Regions from separate parts of the Homo sapiens genome. Here region 1 is linked to region 2. Evidence: fine-mapped expression QTL. A gene starts in region 2. The other region holds a variant in brackets. All regions are shown on one strand. Distances are from middle to middle. Region 1 has its middle 13 kb from the start of ADORA1. Region 2 holds the start of FMOD (fibromodulin).

Evidence for each region. PIP is the estimated chance that this variant, and not a neighbour inherited with it, causes the effect. A credible set is the group of variants that fine-mapping cannot tell apart.
Region 1: its variant is the best candidate, but not a certain one, in a credible set for the expression of FMOD in minor salivary gland (GTEx, PIP 0.87).

The regions. Positions count from the first base shown.
Region 1 is chr1:203,110,823-203,119,154 of GRCh38, reverse strand. No RefSeq gene overlaps it. Among named protein-coding and RNA genes, the nearest start is that of ADORA1, 13 kb to the left of the region's middle. The variant C/A (reference allele first, on the strand shown) is at 4,755.
Region 2 is chr1:203,347,676-203,356,007 of GRCh38, reverse strand. It overlaps FMOD (fibromodulin), which reads left to right and starts at 4,886. Exons shown (of 3, transcript NM_002023.5): 1 at 4,886-4,975; 2 at 7,731-8,332. The coding sequence starts at 7,738. It also overlaps the pseudogene LOC100131747.

The DNA.
Region 1 (8,332 bases), 240 kb after region 2:
AAGGTTCTTTCCAGTTCATCACAATAGCCCACTCAGAGAGTCTGCAGCCCACTGAGGGAACGAAACAGAAGGAACTGAAAAGCAACATCTTCCACGTGAACCATCACCTCATCCTTCTGAAGTCCTAACTAGGTGCTTCATGGACCATGTCCTGGGGTGTAAGGGCTGAGACTGAAGCCAGAGGCTTCATGGAAGGAACGAGTTTTTGCTCCACTCAGTAAAAAGCTAACTGGGATGAAATGGCCCCTGTCCTCAGCCAGTATCCCTGGGTCCCCTGAGAGCCTGCAGGAGAGCCCACCATGTACACATTCTCATAGTTATTTCTCTGAGTGAAGCCCCTCCCAGCAGCGATGGAAGCCAGGTGTGGAAACACTAGGCATTCACTCATTATACTCAGGAATCAGAACTGGTCACAGAGGCTTGGCCACTGATTCCGGCTTCAGCCCATTCCCTCAGCTCCAGTCTTATCCTGGCCCCAACTCCCTGATGTTAAGCAGAACTCAAAGTGCTAGTCTAGAATCATTCCCTTCAGATCTGCCTCACCCCCTCTGCCCTGAACCCTGTCACCAGCGAGCACTGGGCATGGAAGGAAGGGAATTTGCGCTAAGTGCACGTTCCTCAGGTCGGGATAAAGAGGTAGTGGATGGCCTGGGCTCCCTGGTCCTCTGTGGGCTCATCCCAAAGTCCTACCTTCCACACCAGAAAAGCAAACAGCAGCTTGCTAGAGGGGTCCACTCTACAGTTAAAAGCCACTCACTCCATCTGGCTCGTCAAGTGGGGTGGGAGACACAGAGGAGCCCTTCACTTACTGAGCTTTTCTATTTCAATCACTATCCCCGGCCCGAGTTGGACAGACTTCATCCAGGGCTTAAAATAGCTCCCGGGGCATAGAGCTCAAGAAACATTGACTGAATGTTCAATGTTCAAAATAATACACTTCAAGAGTACAAGAAGGAAGTCTCACAACGCTTTATGGTTTAGAATTATTTAACTATCATAGCATTGCCGGTGAAATAAGTATAATCATTTTCCCATTTCTCAGAGGAGGAAACTGAGGCTGGGGGGAGGGAGGTGGGGAAGGTGGATCGGCTGAGCAGCGGGATCTAGAGCCAGAAGCAGCCGCCCAGCTCAGGGCTGTTGTCCGGGGCTCGGGGTCCCCCTGCTGGCCTAACGGAAGCCTGGGCGTGGGCGAGGAGCTGGGCAGGGCCAGACCCCAGTCCCGCAGCCTGAGTTCCCTGCTCCGCCGCGCTAGGTGCTGGGTTCCCGCGGAAGGGAGAAGAAGGAGGAGCCATAGCTGGGCTCAGCATTATAGCGCCTGGCGGAGCACTGCGCAAGGCTTCAGCTGAGATGCTTCACCCGACATCATGGGCCAGAACAGACGAAACAGGCAGCGCCTCAGCTCCCCACCTGCCCGAGCCTCTCCTGAGCTCACCTGCAGAAAGGCCAAAAGGGACGGCGCCTAAGAAGGCCCAGCAGACCCGCTCCCTTGGAGGGAAGAGACAGATTCGCTCTCCTGACGTCCAGTCCAAAGTGCTTTGTTCCCATAGCATTGTCTCCTCCCGTTTCCAGGCAAATCTAACCCAGCCCCAAGAGAACACTTCCCTCCTCTCTGGATCTTGTTGCCCAGGCTGGAATGCAATGGCGTGGTCTTGGCTCACTGCAACCTTCGCCTCCCGGGTTCAAGCGATTCTCCTGCCTCAGCCTCCCAAATAACTGGTATTACAGGTGCCTGCCACCACGCCTAGCTAATGTTCTATTTTTGGTAGAGACGGGGTTTCACCACGTTGGCCAGGCTGGTCTTGAACTCCTGACCTAAGGTGATCCACCCGCCTCGGCCTCCCAAAGTGCTGGGGTTACAGGCGTGAGTCACCGGGCCCGGGCTTCCAGCTCCTTTACTTTCACCCCACTTCATCTGGCTGCTCTACAATTCCCACAGTGAGGAGGGCTAACTTAGACCCATCCACCACGTCCAGAAGTTACCCCTTGTTGGGGGACGGCTGGCCCTCGACTGGGCATGGAACTCTCTGTTATTTCAATACTCCTCAAAGGTTTTAAGTTTGGTCTCTAGTGCCAAAAAATCTGGCATGAAATCTCACTTATGTCTCTTCTTAGTGTGTGACTTTGTGCACATTACTGAACCAAGAAGCCTCCGTTTTCTCATCTGTAAAATAGAAATTATAATACTTTCCTAATGGGCTGTTGGGAGGATTCAGTGATACATTATACAATCAACAGCACTGTGCCTTGCATTACAGCGAGTGTTTGGTAAATGCTAATAATGATCATTACCTTTCCTACCCTAACACCTAACTAAAGAGAATGGGGTGAAGGGTACATGGGCAGGTAGTTCTGGAGAGAAAAGTGCAGTGCCCCATCACGTGCTTGAGTCTTCTCCAACCTGGCCACCTCCTTGCGTTCCCACCCCCTATCTGCAAGGGGGTGGGTGGCAGCTGCGTCCCTCCCCTGCCCATGCCCTGACAGTGCCAAAGGGCTGGCACAGCTGCTGCAATGGCCCAAATGCCTCAGGTTAGGGCTAGGTAGGGGACAGCTGGGGGTAAAGGAGACGTGAGAGGAGGCAGAGCAGGGGCACCCTTCTCTACCAGCATGTCCACTCACCCTGCAGCTTCCTAAGCCTCTCAGGTCAGCCAGGGACCTCTGACCTCACTCCTGTCCAGCCTGAGGGGGTTTCCCCCTCTTTCCCTCTCTTGTTCTCTGGCCTCTAGTACCTCCTCCTCCATGGCTGGACCCACCCAGTCTCCCAGCCCCGTTGCCCAACTCCCTCTCCTGCCCACATGCTGCCCAGCTGTCGCTGCCCCTGAGCTGGCACTCTGCCCACCTGCACCACTCATGAATCGCCAGCATTCACACTCTGACCCTGGAACCTCCACCTGTTCCCCTCGGTCTGAGCAGCAGGGCTGTGTGGCCCCATCTGTTGTCCTCCAGCCAGGACTCAGTGCAAGGGACTACACTTCAACCCCCGCCAACTTCCACCTGCCAGGAGAGGGCGGGAAGGACTGGCTGGGATGATGCCTGATTTGGGGGGCTCCTTATCTCCTGGAAGAGCAGGCCTTGTTCTCCCCTGCCCCAGGCCCACCAGCACTGTCTTAAAAGACCAACATTACAACTGAAAAAGCAAAAAGCCCACACTTCCCAAAGGACATTTGCATATTTAATAGCATTCTCCTATTACATTTCACTTGTTGATGGCAAGCCCCTAAATCAGAAGCTGGTCAGTGCAAGATGGTAAGCAGAAAGACACAACAGTGGCAACATTTTCAATTAATGTTTCATTATACAAACAATATGTGAATGCGCTTTCCTTGATAAAAAAGTGAAACCACTGTAGTTCAGGCTCAAATTCCATTTAACCAGTTCCCTAAATCAAGACCCTTTCATCTAAACGCAGAGGTGACCATTGTTACCAGTTTGATGTGTATATTTCCAGGAATTTTTCTATGTATTTGCATAATATAAGTGTGTGTGTATATGTACATTTACACACAAGTATGTTTACATTACATATAAATAAGAGTATGTATATACCCCTATACACACATTTATATATGCAAATATATATATATTCAAAAAAAATGTAGTACTATCATGGGTTTGGGTTTTGTTATTTTTTACATGAATTGTAAACTACAAATATTCTGCAGCTAGATTCACTAAAAAAGTCTTATCAAGTCAGTACATCTAGCTCTGCAATCTCTAAATGATACATAATTCTAGCATAAACACATCATAGTTTGTTTAGCCATTTCCCTATTGATAGGCATTTGTGTCTCATTTTCTCCCACTACAAATAAACATGTCCCTGTCACAGATTTTAGCCTTCTCCAATTTGGTCTTACCTGGTCCCACCTGGTCCTGTGTTCCTACCTCTTGTGAACAAAAAGATTTATCATTTAATTCTTTTTAAGGGCACAAATGTAACAAAAGTGTCCTTGGGAACATTTTATTACAAATTTTTAGTAATTTTTCTCAAAACCCTAGGTCCCACTATGATGATTTCTGTATCCACTCAGAAGCAAATTATTGCTGTAGGAGAGAGAGCTGCAGTCAAGGAGGCAGAAGGAGATACAAGAAAAAAAAGTGAAGAGAGAAAAAGGTAAAAAAAAAAAGGGAACAGAAGGAGCAAGAAAGAGAAAGAAGTAAAAGAACATGCTTATTTATTACAGCACTCTCTGCAACAGGGAAAAACTGGAACTGTCCAACAGAAAGGAAACAGTTAAGTAAAACTTGGCATATCCATTCAATGGAATATTACTCAGCCATTACAATAATAATTGTGAAGATTATGCAGGAGCATGGAAAATGCTTCTGATATTAAGTTACAAAGTAGACTACAAAATTAAAACTACATTATGATGACAACTATGCAAAATGATGTGGGCATACAGACATGGGAAGGCAATATAGACAAATGAAACCAATCTGATTTGTTGGAGTAGCAGAATTGTGGGGGCACTATTATTTACTTACTTCCATTAATATTGCTATAATATGGTTTGTGCAATATATGATTAATGCCAAAGTGAAACAGCAATGGAAAGAAGGCAGGAAAGGAAAGTGAATAAAACAGAAAGAGGGAAAAGGGAGGAAGGGAAGAAGGGCGTGAAGGAAGGAATGAGAGGAGAGGGTTGAAGAAGGGAGATGAGAAGAAGGAGGTTGGCGTCAAGCCTACGTTTGAGGGCTGGGCTGTCTTCAGCAGATCTGTCAGTCACAGGGTCGATGCAGGCTTTTCTTCCAGA[C/A]CCTTTGGATCGACAACAGTTTTCACTGTTCATAGAAGATGGGATCTCCCTCCTCCTTCCCTCTTGTATTCTTTGAAGCCTGCCAAGGAGCTAGGGATACCGAGCTCAGGACTGTGCTCTTCAGGGACTGAAAATCTAGTCAGGTGGGGAGAGATGGAGGCATAGATACGTGAGCAAACTATGACAGCCAGCCCACAAATGCTCAAATAGAGATCTAATCCTCTAAAGGTGGAGGCTGTAGGGTCCCAGAAGTCTTCACAGATCAAAGGACATTTGAGCTGGGGCTCAAAGGATGGACAGGAGATTTCCAGGCAGAGAAAAGGCAGTGACATCCTAGGTAAAAGGCACACGTGCAGAGGAACTGGGGCCTAAATACACACCCATACCACGTACACTACCATTCATATGGCTAGACACAGGGCTCAGGAAAGACAGAGACAAGAGATGATGCCTTGACTTTATCCCCAGGGCAATGAGAAGCACTGAAGGGTTTAATCAGAGCAAAGGCACACTCTGATTTGTCCTTTAGAGAGATAACCCTCAAGACAATGAGGAAAGTGAGTGGGAATAGGGCAAAGTGGAGAGAGGGAACATCAGTTAGGAAGTTACTGTAAGAGTTCTGTTGAGAAGAGTAGGACCCTATGTTGGGCAGTCAATGGGGTGAGGGGAGAAGGATAACTCAAGAAATTCTTAGGTAGAAACGACAGAACTTCATTCGTTCATTCATTCAGCCAGTGTCTTTGGAGGGCCTGCTATGGAATTGGGTATTCAGAGATCAAAGAGAGTCTGTGTCCTAACAGGGAAGACAGAGGGTTACAGATCAATGTGAAAATAGCTATGATTGAGATAAGCCAATGGGGCTGCGGCCGTGAGACCAGGAATTGATGGGCTGTGGGAAGGGAGGAAGGTCTCATATGACTTCTAAGTTTCTGCCTCCCATGGTGAGTGAAGAGTGGAGCCATCCACAGAGACAGGAGGCACAGAGTAAGGCCATGTCCAGCACATGTCTAGAGGCAGATAATAATTTTTATTTGGGCCTCTCACTCTTCCTTTGCTCCTGACCCATTCAAAAAAGGCAAATGTAGCTTAAGGAGCTTGTTGCCTTCCCGACAGAATGAATTACATGAAAAGCACCTAGAATAGTGCCTGACACATAGTAAATGCTCAACAAATATTAACAAAGAAAACAAGAAAAATTCAGAAACGTAAAGCAAGGTTCATACTTAGGAAGGTGCCTCTCTCCCTTCCTCCATGAGACCAGGGAGGAACATGCGACTCCTGGCCCTGAAAGGCAGGTCACAGGAGACTTGACAAAACGAGAACGTAACCAAAACTAAGAAGAGCTTGTTAAAAAGAGAGTGTGGCTATAAACATGCAAAAACTGAGCTCACTGCTAGCAGATAGGACACCTGCAATGAGGGGAGAGATGGGGGAAGAGGGGTCTCAGCAGTTTCTTCCCATGCAAAGAGTTTGCACCATATTATTCATTTGAAGAGTATAAACTGTGCACATTGCAAATCACGTTCATTGCATCATATCATAAAGGAAGCCACCAAAATTGTGAAGTTTTTTGTTGTTGTTGTTCTCATGCTTCAACTATTGTGTTTACTGAAATTTTGGAAGATGAAGCAGAGTGTGGAGACATTGTTTATGTTGATGCTGTTGGGTGGTGTAGTCATGGAAACTTGTTAGAAATATTTACTGAACTAATTCCCCAGATGAAGGACCATGGAGAATTAAAAGGCTTTGAAGGCCCCAACACATCAGACCTCAGGTCTTACTGATGTGACAAGACTTGTAAACACTCTAATCTTGTTTGAAACAATGTCGATGTCCGGGTTGAACTTAAGCTGCCCACATGGACAAGGTGACTGACTACTGGAACCTGCTTTCATTTCTTACTGTTTGACTATTCTGAGCACAATAAAATCACTAATCATAAAGAAATGCAGGCCAGGCACGGTGGCTCATGCCTGTAATTGCAATGCTTTGCGAAGCCAGGGCAGGAGGATCACTTGAGGCCAGGAGTTCAAGACCAGCCTGAGCAACATAGGCCTTGTTTCTACAAAAAAATTTAAAAATTAGCTGGGCATGGTGGTGTGTGCTTGTAGTTCCAGCTACTCGGGAGCCTGAGGCAGAAGGATTGCTTGAACCCAGGAATTCAAGGCTGCAATGAGCTACGATTGTGCCACTGCACCCCAGCCTAGGTGGCAGAGTGAGACCGTCTTTAAAAAAAAAAAAAAGAAAGAAAGAAAAGAAAAGAAAGCAATGCAATGAATGCAATGCTATGTGATGGACATAAAGTCATATTTTAGGATAAATTCTCAGGTTTTGTTAAGTCTGAATCTTGCTCTAAGTTTCTGTATGCTTACCTTTTTGAAGTTCACCTCTGTGTTCCAGGTACATTCCAGGTGTTTCACACGTACTCATGCATTCAAGCCTTACAACAAACCTGCGGGATAGTTTCTAGTATTATCCCCATTTCACAAATGAGAAAACTGAGGCACAGGGAAGAGGCAACCACTTTTAAGTGGGGGAGCCTAGACTCCAAGTCTGGTAGTCTGGCTTGAGTGCTCTTAACCACTTTATGTATAAACTTGAGAATGTATTTATAATAAATAACCAGGCTTCCTCCCTATCAGTGGGGTCTCATTTCCAGGGAACTTACTAAGCTGAAAGTGAATTACGCTCACCAAGAAGACTCAGTTTTCCTAGAATTTTACAAAGCACTGGATAAATCCCAGAGCCCGAAATGTCGTAGTGGTCAGTGGTCTAACATTGGGAATGTTTGGGTCCATTTTCTCTTTTTTCATGAAGCGATTGGGATCAGCACTGAGAACCATCACAGTGATGAAAATGTGGGACATGTATTGAGATGTACCCCGACTAAGCACACTCCATGGCGCCATTTGTTAAGTACCTGTCCTTGTGGACTTCACTGATGTTCTCAAAATTGACCCACATCTAGCATGGGCCAGTAAGAGTGCATGTTTACATAAATTGTGTTAATTCAACTGCTTTTGTACTGTTGTTAACAAACCATAAATTTGTTCAGCTAGCTTCACTAATATAGAAAACTATATTGTTTTCAAACATTACAGACTTCAGTTATGAAGTATAGTGGAGTAGTTTACTGATTAGTTCTCTCAGTAAAGACAACAACAAATATTCAGACAAAAGATTTAAAACCTCTTTGTAAATGCATTAATAAACTGGAAAAGAATGAAAGGTAAATTCAAAAGCCTAAAATCATGAGAAGCAGGCACCCAGAGAGGTAAGCCTTATACTGATGTCAGCCTTTACATTGAGCTTCAATTTCCACAAACCGAGGGGGCTTGTCAACAGTGGGAAGTCCAGTAGGGGACCATACCCCCAGCATCAACCCATAAACCTGAAACCCAAAGGCTACAATTCAGTCTAATGGTGAATTCAAAATAAATCAGTGCCCCACCTGCCTGCCTTAAACCTGACACTGAATAGAAGGGAGAAAAACATCTCCCCTGAAAATTAACAACTACCAGCTAGCCCTTATGTAGCTTTGCTGTACAAATTCACACTATCTTGCTGGTTCTAGAAAC
Region 2 (8,332 bases):
CCTTTCCTGACTCAAATACACTCATACCTTCTAGAAAGTGGTCTTCTGGGATCCATCATGTCATCATCATGTTAACAATATCAAGCATGCAGTAAACACACAGTAAAAATAAGAGATGCTATCCATTAAAAGAGAAAGGTTGTTCTCTACCTTCTTTTTAAGCAGCTTATTGCTAAAAGGAAATTATAAGCCCTCAGGCATCTTCTAGAACTTGGAAGTTGAGGTCTTTCTCCTATTGCAGTTCAAAGAAAACAAGTCTTTCTCCAGCTCCAACATCTTCATGGCTCTCATCCTTCTGGAAAGAGGACACTCTCCATGATGAGGACTTCTAATGGCCCTTTGGTGCCAAGGGAATAGGAGAAAATATCTCTCTTGGAAGCTTTGGGACACCATTGTTGGGTGCCAATGTAGCCAAGAATTTCCATTGAAACATCAGACTAGGAAAAACTCCCTCGCTGGCGTCAAGAGTTTTCAGGATGGGCCAGCAGCGGGGTCTGGATTATATAATATCGCCATGGTCATCTTTCTGCTGACCTCTGTATATTCAATTCAAGAAATCTGGTTGGGTGGGTTTTCAGTCACACCCTCTTGCCCTCCACCTTCCCTGAGTTATCTGGGATCAGAGGCTGGATCATAAAAACAAGGGTTGTTGAGTCTTGTGGGGGATGAAGAGGAAGAAAAGGGTTGGTGGCCACAAGAACGTCACTGTGTCTTTGCTGGTGGGAACTTGAGTCAGAAGGGACTTCATTTCTCCCAGACAGGGTGGGTCCAGCATCAGAGGCAATGAGCTTTGCCTAGTGATTGTGGCTTAACCTGTACTTTTCTGGGTAGGGAGGAAATAGCAGTGGCCTGAACCCCTGGAAAGTCTAAAGGTTTTCCTGGCCTGGTTGGTGGTGGTTTTTCCACCCAGCATTGAGTACTGAAGACAGACATACTCTGTGGGGAGCCAAAAATACAATTCCTTTCATAACCCTTTACTGATTGCCTACTAAGTGCCAACGCATTGTGTGCCCAGCTGGGACAGGGGCTACAGAAATGCATGACATTGCCTTTCTCTTTAGTTTATTTTCAGTCTAGTGACTGCATAGTGCTGGCTAGACACCCCCTAGAAGATACTGGTGTCCTCCTTCACATGTGGACTCCCTCAGCAAGCAATCTGGTGGACATCAATATCTCATTCTTGGCTTCCCATGTTGAAGGCAAGCTCTGAGGGCCTAGATCCAGGAACCAGGCAAACAAAGCAGCAGTGGCCAAAATGGAGGTAGAAACCTCCACTAAAGGTTAGAGAAAAGAACTTTTGAACAGTGGGTGGTTCCCTGAAACTCTGCCTTCTGACCTGGTCCCAATCATCCCTTCCATCCTTCCTTCATCCCAGGCCTGCCTTGGAACAGGATGGATAGCTAAAGACCTGGTGCACATCTCACCACTTTAGAAATGGCCAAAAAACCCCATGGAGATACTGTCTTTTTGGTGGTGCCCGGTTGGGAAGAATCCAGTCACTATTTGGTTCCCAGACTTTAGTAACTTTCATTGTTAGTAAATGCAGAATTAGTCAGCATGCTGGAATTTAAAAAAATAAACATCTGTACCCAATGGTGAATCTGTCCAGGCTATCTAGGCTCATTTAAAAGTGTTTCCCAGGCTCGGTTGCCAAGATCAGTGTCCTCCACTGAAAGGTGACTGCTTTCTGGACTCAAAAATGACTAGAAAGTTATCTGTGCATTATTCATAAGCATTTTCACAGTAAGGCCATTCTGCTTCACTCATGAGGTCAGAGTTTGCTACATTCAGATCTGCTTTATTATAATCAGGCATTATACCGAAGCCTTCTTTGTGTCTCCAACACTTAGGATCATGCCCAACACATAGTAGATGCTCAAATTTATTAAACGGAAATGAAATATGGGTGGGATGAGGAAGAGAACCCCTATACCCCAGCCCCATCTCACTTTAAAACCCCCCTGCCCCCAGATTCAGGCAGATTGGTCAATCGTAATTAATTAAGCTTCATCTTAGTCGAGGCCAGCCTGACAGCAGGGTAGTCATTGCCCCTCCACTTTGCCAATCCTCTGTGCTAGAGTTAGAGAAAAGTGTGTGGGCTTTCAAGTCATGTAGACCAAGGTTCAGATCCTTGTTTTGCCACTTACCAGCTAGTCACTTTATATCACTAAAACCCTAATTCCTTGGCTGAAAGCAGGGTCAAAAATAAAAAAAAAAAAATCCTGACAGAATGAGGTGACATAACAGAGGCAGGTCGGAGCCACTGCTGTCACCATGACCCGCAGTAACCAGCATGAGCTTACTGGCTAGAAAAATAGGAAAAAGCAGAGTGACTCAGTTAAGGGAAAACGTCGAGATGACGGGCTTTCTGCTGCTGCGGCAAGCAGAGGAGCTCAGAGACCAAGCAGCAGGAGCAGAAGAAGGCAAAAGAGAAGAAGGAGGAACCCGAGTAGCTTTGTGGCTTCATGTCCAACCCTCCTGCCCTTCGCCTATGTGACTGGAGCCAGTCCCACCACCCTCACGTTTCCTCCTGCAGTGCCCGCAGGTCCCCGCACCCATGGCCTCCTTTTGCCCTGAGTCTGCAGCGGGTCCCTTTTGTGCTTCCTTCCCCTCACGTAGCCTCTCTCCCCCTGGCCCCTCCTGGAAGTGGCGGGTGGGAGGTTACCCCTTCCCAGTGTTTTTTTATTCCTGTGGGGCTCACCCCAAAGTATTAAAAGTAGCTTTGAAAAAAAAACACTAATTCCAATGCAAAATATCTACTGTTATCTTTGATAACATAAGTAAACCACCTAGTCTATAGTAGGTGGTCAGAAAAGGCTCATTCATTAGGTTTCATCTTTTTGAAATCTCTTCTTAAATTCTGAGAATGGGTCCCTGACAAGGCCCTTTCTGACAGCCCACACGCTAAGTCAAAAGCTCAAACCTATTGGAGAAACCAAAAGGACCATCTGCCTCGACACTTCTAAATTCTTCAAATTCAAGTCATCTCAGGGTTTCTCAGTTGGTATTTTTTTAAGATAAAGGTGTTTCTTTGATGTTGGCATAAGCCAGTTAACATACTTGAGGAGAGAACATTTAGGACACATGAGTTTATCTAAGCTATTGAGATTCTGTGTGACCCACATTATAATGGTTCTCAAATGTTTTCTTCCAGCCCCTAAACTCCAGATTCAGATTCATATGTCCAACGGTCTACGTGCATCTCCAGGGGAATGCCTAGCAGGCATCTCTAACAGCATATCCAAAATGTAACTTTGGTTTTCTACCCAACTCAGTCCCACGTCACCTTTCCCATGTCAAGAAATGTTACCACCACCTACCCAGTTGCTCAAACTAAAATTCTAGGAATCATCCTTGACTTTTCCTAACTCTGCAAGACTTGTCAGTTCTCTGTCTAAAATATAAGATCTTCTCTTCCATTGCACCAGTCCAATCTGCCATTACCTCTCCTTGAGGCTGGGTTGGAGCCTCCCTGCTTCCACCCTGGCCTCCCCTTCTCCATACAGCAGCCCCTCCTACATGCTTTTAAAATGTAAATTAGATCCCATGCAAATCAGATCCCATGGCTTCTCCTGCTTGAAACATGTTTTTTTTTTTAAACATTTAGAATAGGCCGGACCGGATGACGCACGCCTGTAATCCCAGCACTTTGGGGCACTGAGGTGGGTGGATCACCTGTGTTTAGGAGTTCAAGACCAGCCTGACCAATATGATGAAACCCTGTCTCTACTAAAAATACAAAAAATTAGCTGGGCGTGGTGGCGTGTGCCTGTAGTCCCAGCTACCCAGGAGGCTGAGGCAGGAGAACGGCTTGAACCTGGGAGGCGGAGGTTGCAGAAAGCAGAGATTGTGCCACTGCACTCCAGCCTGGGCGACACAGCGAGACTCCTTTTCGATCTCCTGACCTCATGATCCTCCTGCCTCGGCCTCCCAAAGTGCTGGGATTACAGGCATGAGCCACCACGCCCAGCTGAGACTCCTTCTCAAACAAACAAACAACAACAACAACAACAAAAACATTTAGAATAAAAACCAAATCACTTCCATCGCCCAAAAGTCCTTTCATGGTACAGCTCCTGCCCAGCTTTCTGATCTTGTCTTTCCCTGGCTGAGGAATTCTATGGCTGTGAAATGGGTAGGACACAGTGAACCTCAGCTATGTGCCAGGTCAGGAGCCTCCCACACATCACCTGATACAGTCCTTGCTACAACCCAGCAAGGTAAGTGTTATTAACTCTGAATTTGTTGTGAGCATTAAGTGGAAGTGGATGATGCTAGTGCATAAGCAGTGATCAGCAAATGCTGGAGTCCCTGCCTTTCCTTTTGTTCCAGTGGTGGAGGTGGGCAGGACCTGTAGCCTAGAAAAGTCTACACTGCTTAGGGATAGAACTGGAACCAGAGCCGGCTGTCCCTTGTCATTCATGCTCCCTTATCCACTAGCCTGATGACCTGTCTATAGGGGGAGCTGAGAAGCGCGAGTTCTCGCTCTCTGGAGGGACATGTGGGTTGCTGAAGGAGTTAAGATGTCTCTTACCAAACCCTGGCCCTCCCCATCCCTGCATCTGCCTTTGTGGCTTTAATGAGAAATCCAGGCGCTTCATAAGAGACTGTACAAATAACTTCTAGGGCGCCACTAACTCATTCAGCAGAAAGGGACCCAGGGCTGCCAATGTTTCAGGGAAGATAAGTGAGTGGAAAAAAGGTGGTTTTTATAGCGTCAGGCGGACCGAAGGATTTGCGTGGTTGAGCGTGAACTCCGCCCCTGCAGCAGAGCTGAAAAAAACCAGGATCCGGGTTCCTCAGCCCCTTTTCACAATATTTGATTAGGAATTTGGGGCGGGACCCTGGTCTGGCACAGGCACGCACACTCTCAGTAGACTCTTTCACTCCTCTCTCTCTTCCTCTCTCACACGTTCTCCAACCCAAGGAGGCCAGACAGAGGGACGTGGTCACTCTCTGAAAAGTTCAACTTGAGGTAAGTATAGTCGTTTTACTTCGGGTTTGTCCCTAGCAGTTCCTTAAAAGAAATAAAGGAAAAGTGGTAGGGGATAGGGGAGATGGGGAGGCAGGGAGGGTTCATTCCTCCTTCTCCACATCTGGGCCATGACCCCAGGGATGCTGGAGAGTGGCAGAGAGGGTGTATAAGGGAGGGGTTCCAGCCCTGTACCTTTCTCTTACAGTTCCTTTATGGGTGCTGAGGGGACCTCCAATTCTCAGGCATGAAAAAGTGAAGGACCCTCTGTCTAGGGAAGCTTCTTCCCTGCTACTCATAAATCCCATCATGCTGGGAGTGTGGGCATTTTGAAGGGTATTCCAAGACCTGGATGTCCCTGCAATCTCTCTTATAGAGGGGTTTGGTACATAAATGCTATTATGGGAGAGGGGGAAACTTTTGTGTAGAATGTGTGTGTGTGTGTGTGTGTGTGTGTGTTTGGAGTGGAAAGGAGAGAATAAAAAGAAGCATTGAGAACTGGCCATGTCCAGGGAGCTGTGGATTGGGGTGGGGATGCAATCCAGGTGAGGGGATGGCCTCTGGCTTGACCTTCTCCACTGATAGGAGGGAGAGATCTTTCTCTAGAGTGGAGAAATGAAAGAACAGCAGTAGCTCCTGAGTAAACTTCCCCCAGCTGATAGTGTGGCAGTCCTGGAAACTTTCGACCTTACAGAAACTCTGAGCACAGGAGGGCCTCTAGCATTATGGGAAACAGTGTAAGACTATGCAACCCTGAAGCAACATTGCTAAGAGATGGGATGGGGTAAGGAGAGGCATAAGCTCCCCATCAAACCCTTTCAGCACCCATGGCTCTAAGAAGAGGCTGAAGTGGGCAGGGTGCACAGCCCCTAGAAAGCTGAGTCTGAAGGGGAAGGTGGCTCTTGTCTGCCAAGGTGCCCAGTCTGAAAGAAGGAGAAACGGAGACAGAGGCTCACTGTGCCAGCCCTCCAGACAGCCACCTTGGTCCTGCAACAGCCCAGGGCTGTGCATGGAAAAATGCTCTGTTGGCAGTGGGCCGCTCCATTCGTCTTCTCTCCTGGCCAGAGCCAGGAACCAGCCAGCTTGCCCAGGCAGTGGGCAGTTGGGTCAGCTTCTCCAAAACACTGTGGCTCTTTGTCTGAGGCCTGAGGCTGCCTGTGGATGAGCCAGGGTGCCTGCTCCTCTGCAACCTAGGAACTGATGGGATGAAGTGGGCCCAAGGAAACTGTTTTGAGGGGACAGAGAGGTCTGGGATGGATGGTGGTCAGGAGGTAACTCTGTTGAGTGTCATAGTTGGGGTCTTTCCCATCAGTTCACTGGATCTGATGATGTTGGCTTTTATACTCCTTTCTTTCTTCTGTTTACAGTTGCCAACCCCAGTAGGCCCAACAGCAATGTGAGGGCTGTATGTGACTCTTCCAGGCCAAGAAAGATTCTAAGGTTTCTCTGTCCAAGGGTGACACTCAGGAAGATGCCCACTGCTCACAGGAGTATGTCATGCATTGGCTATAGGTAACCAGGGTAGGGTACCCAGGCCACCCCTAGTCTCTTACCTTCCATACCTTTAGTTTCCCTCTCAGATGACATCAGACCCACATTTCCTCTTCAGTCTGCCCTGTTCCTATCTCATTAGCACAACAGGTTCAAAAGCAACAGGTTTCCAGCAATGTGGGGACCTAGACACAGAGCCTGGTCATCTAGGTGTCATCGCTGGGAGCAGGTAGCTTGGGAAAGGAGAGGAGAATGTCAGGGTCCTACCTCAAGCTGCTTTCCCTTGAGCATACACAAGAGTTTCCAATCTCTAGCTATTCTTTTGGTGTCCCTCATTCATTTCTCTTGGCCCCACATGGCTCTTGCATGATGCCCATGGTGGAGCATGAGGAGTGCTAACACCTTACTAGGCACCATGGAAGAGAGAAGCAGATTAACTCAGACTTCACACACTGAGTACCTGCTTTAGAAGGCAAGTGCCACACCCAGTGCCAGGGTCCTCAGTCTGGAAAGGATTTGTAACTGCTGCATGAAGACCCTGTCCCAGCCAAGTTGCATGTGTAGCCACAAACTGCTAACCAGTGAGTTTCCTCACTCAGCAGACTGTTACAGATGATGGCACTTTGGAGGGCAACCTGAGCCTTGTGGTGGCTGCAGAGGGACCACACTCCTCCCCAAACACTCAAGACCAAAAACTCCCAGCCTGCCCAAGAGACCAAAAGATTTTCCAGATGTAGTTCAGCTCTTCCCCTTCGATGCGTCAAGCGGCTTCTGGAGGTCTCCCATCCTAGGGCTTTCTCCTTGGACTCTTAGAAAAATACTATTTCCCCGGAACATCCAAACTGGATTTGGGTTCAGATCTGAAGAGCATCCCACTACCATCCTTACCACCACACCACAAACACAGGGATTGCTGTGGGCTTTTCAGCTTTCCCACAGGACTTTCAGAGTGCTAGAGGCTCCTAAGAATCTGCCCCTCCAAAAAAAAAATGCAGCTGTTCCCATTCAAAGACATTCTGTCTGTGACTCTATGACCAGGGGAAAATGCACTTAGCTCACCCCAAATAGCCATGGTCCGGCTGGACCAAGTGCAGAACCAGACTGGGAGGAGGCACCGAAGAAATGAGAGCAAGGCTCCTGCTCTCAGATGTTTGACATGGAAGTCAGCTCTGCATAGCTCAAAGCCTAAGGCTTGCCTACTCTGCCTCACTGCCTCTGTGGAGTCTCACTCATGCTGGCTTGCTCTGTTCTCTCCCGCTTCTTGCAGAGACAAAATGCAGTGGACCTCCCTCCTGCTGCTGGCAGGGCTCTTCTCCCTCTCCCAGGCCCAGTATGAAGATGACCCTCATTGGTGGTTCCACTACCTCCGCAGCCAGCAGTCCACCTACTACGATCCCTATGACCCTTACCCGTATGAGACCTACGAGCCTTACCCCTATGGGGTGGATGAAGGGCCAGCCTACACCTACGGCTCTCCATCCCCTCCAGATCCCCGCGACTGCCCCCAGGAGTGCGACTGCCCACCCAACTTCCCCACGGCCATGTACTGTGACAATCGCAACCTCAAGTACCTGCCCTTCGTTCCCTCCCGCATGAAGTATGTGTACTTCCAGAACAACCAGATCACCTCCATCCAGGAAGGCGTCTTTGACAATGCCACAGGGCTGCTCTGGATTGCTCTCCACGGCAACCAGATCACCAGTGATAAGGTGGGCAGGAAGGTCTTCTCCAAGCTGAGGCACCTGGAGAGGCTGTACCTGGACCACAACAACCTGACCCGGATGCCCGGTCCCCTGCCTCGATCCCTGAGAGAGCTCCATCTCGACCACAACCAGATCTCACGGGTCCCCAACAATGCTCTGGAGGGGC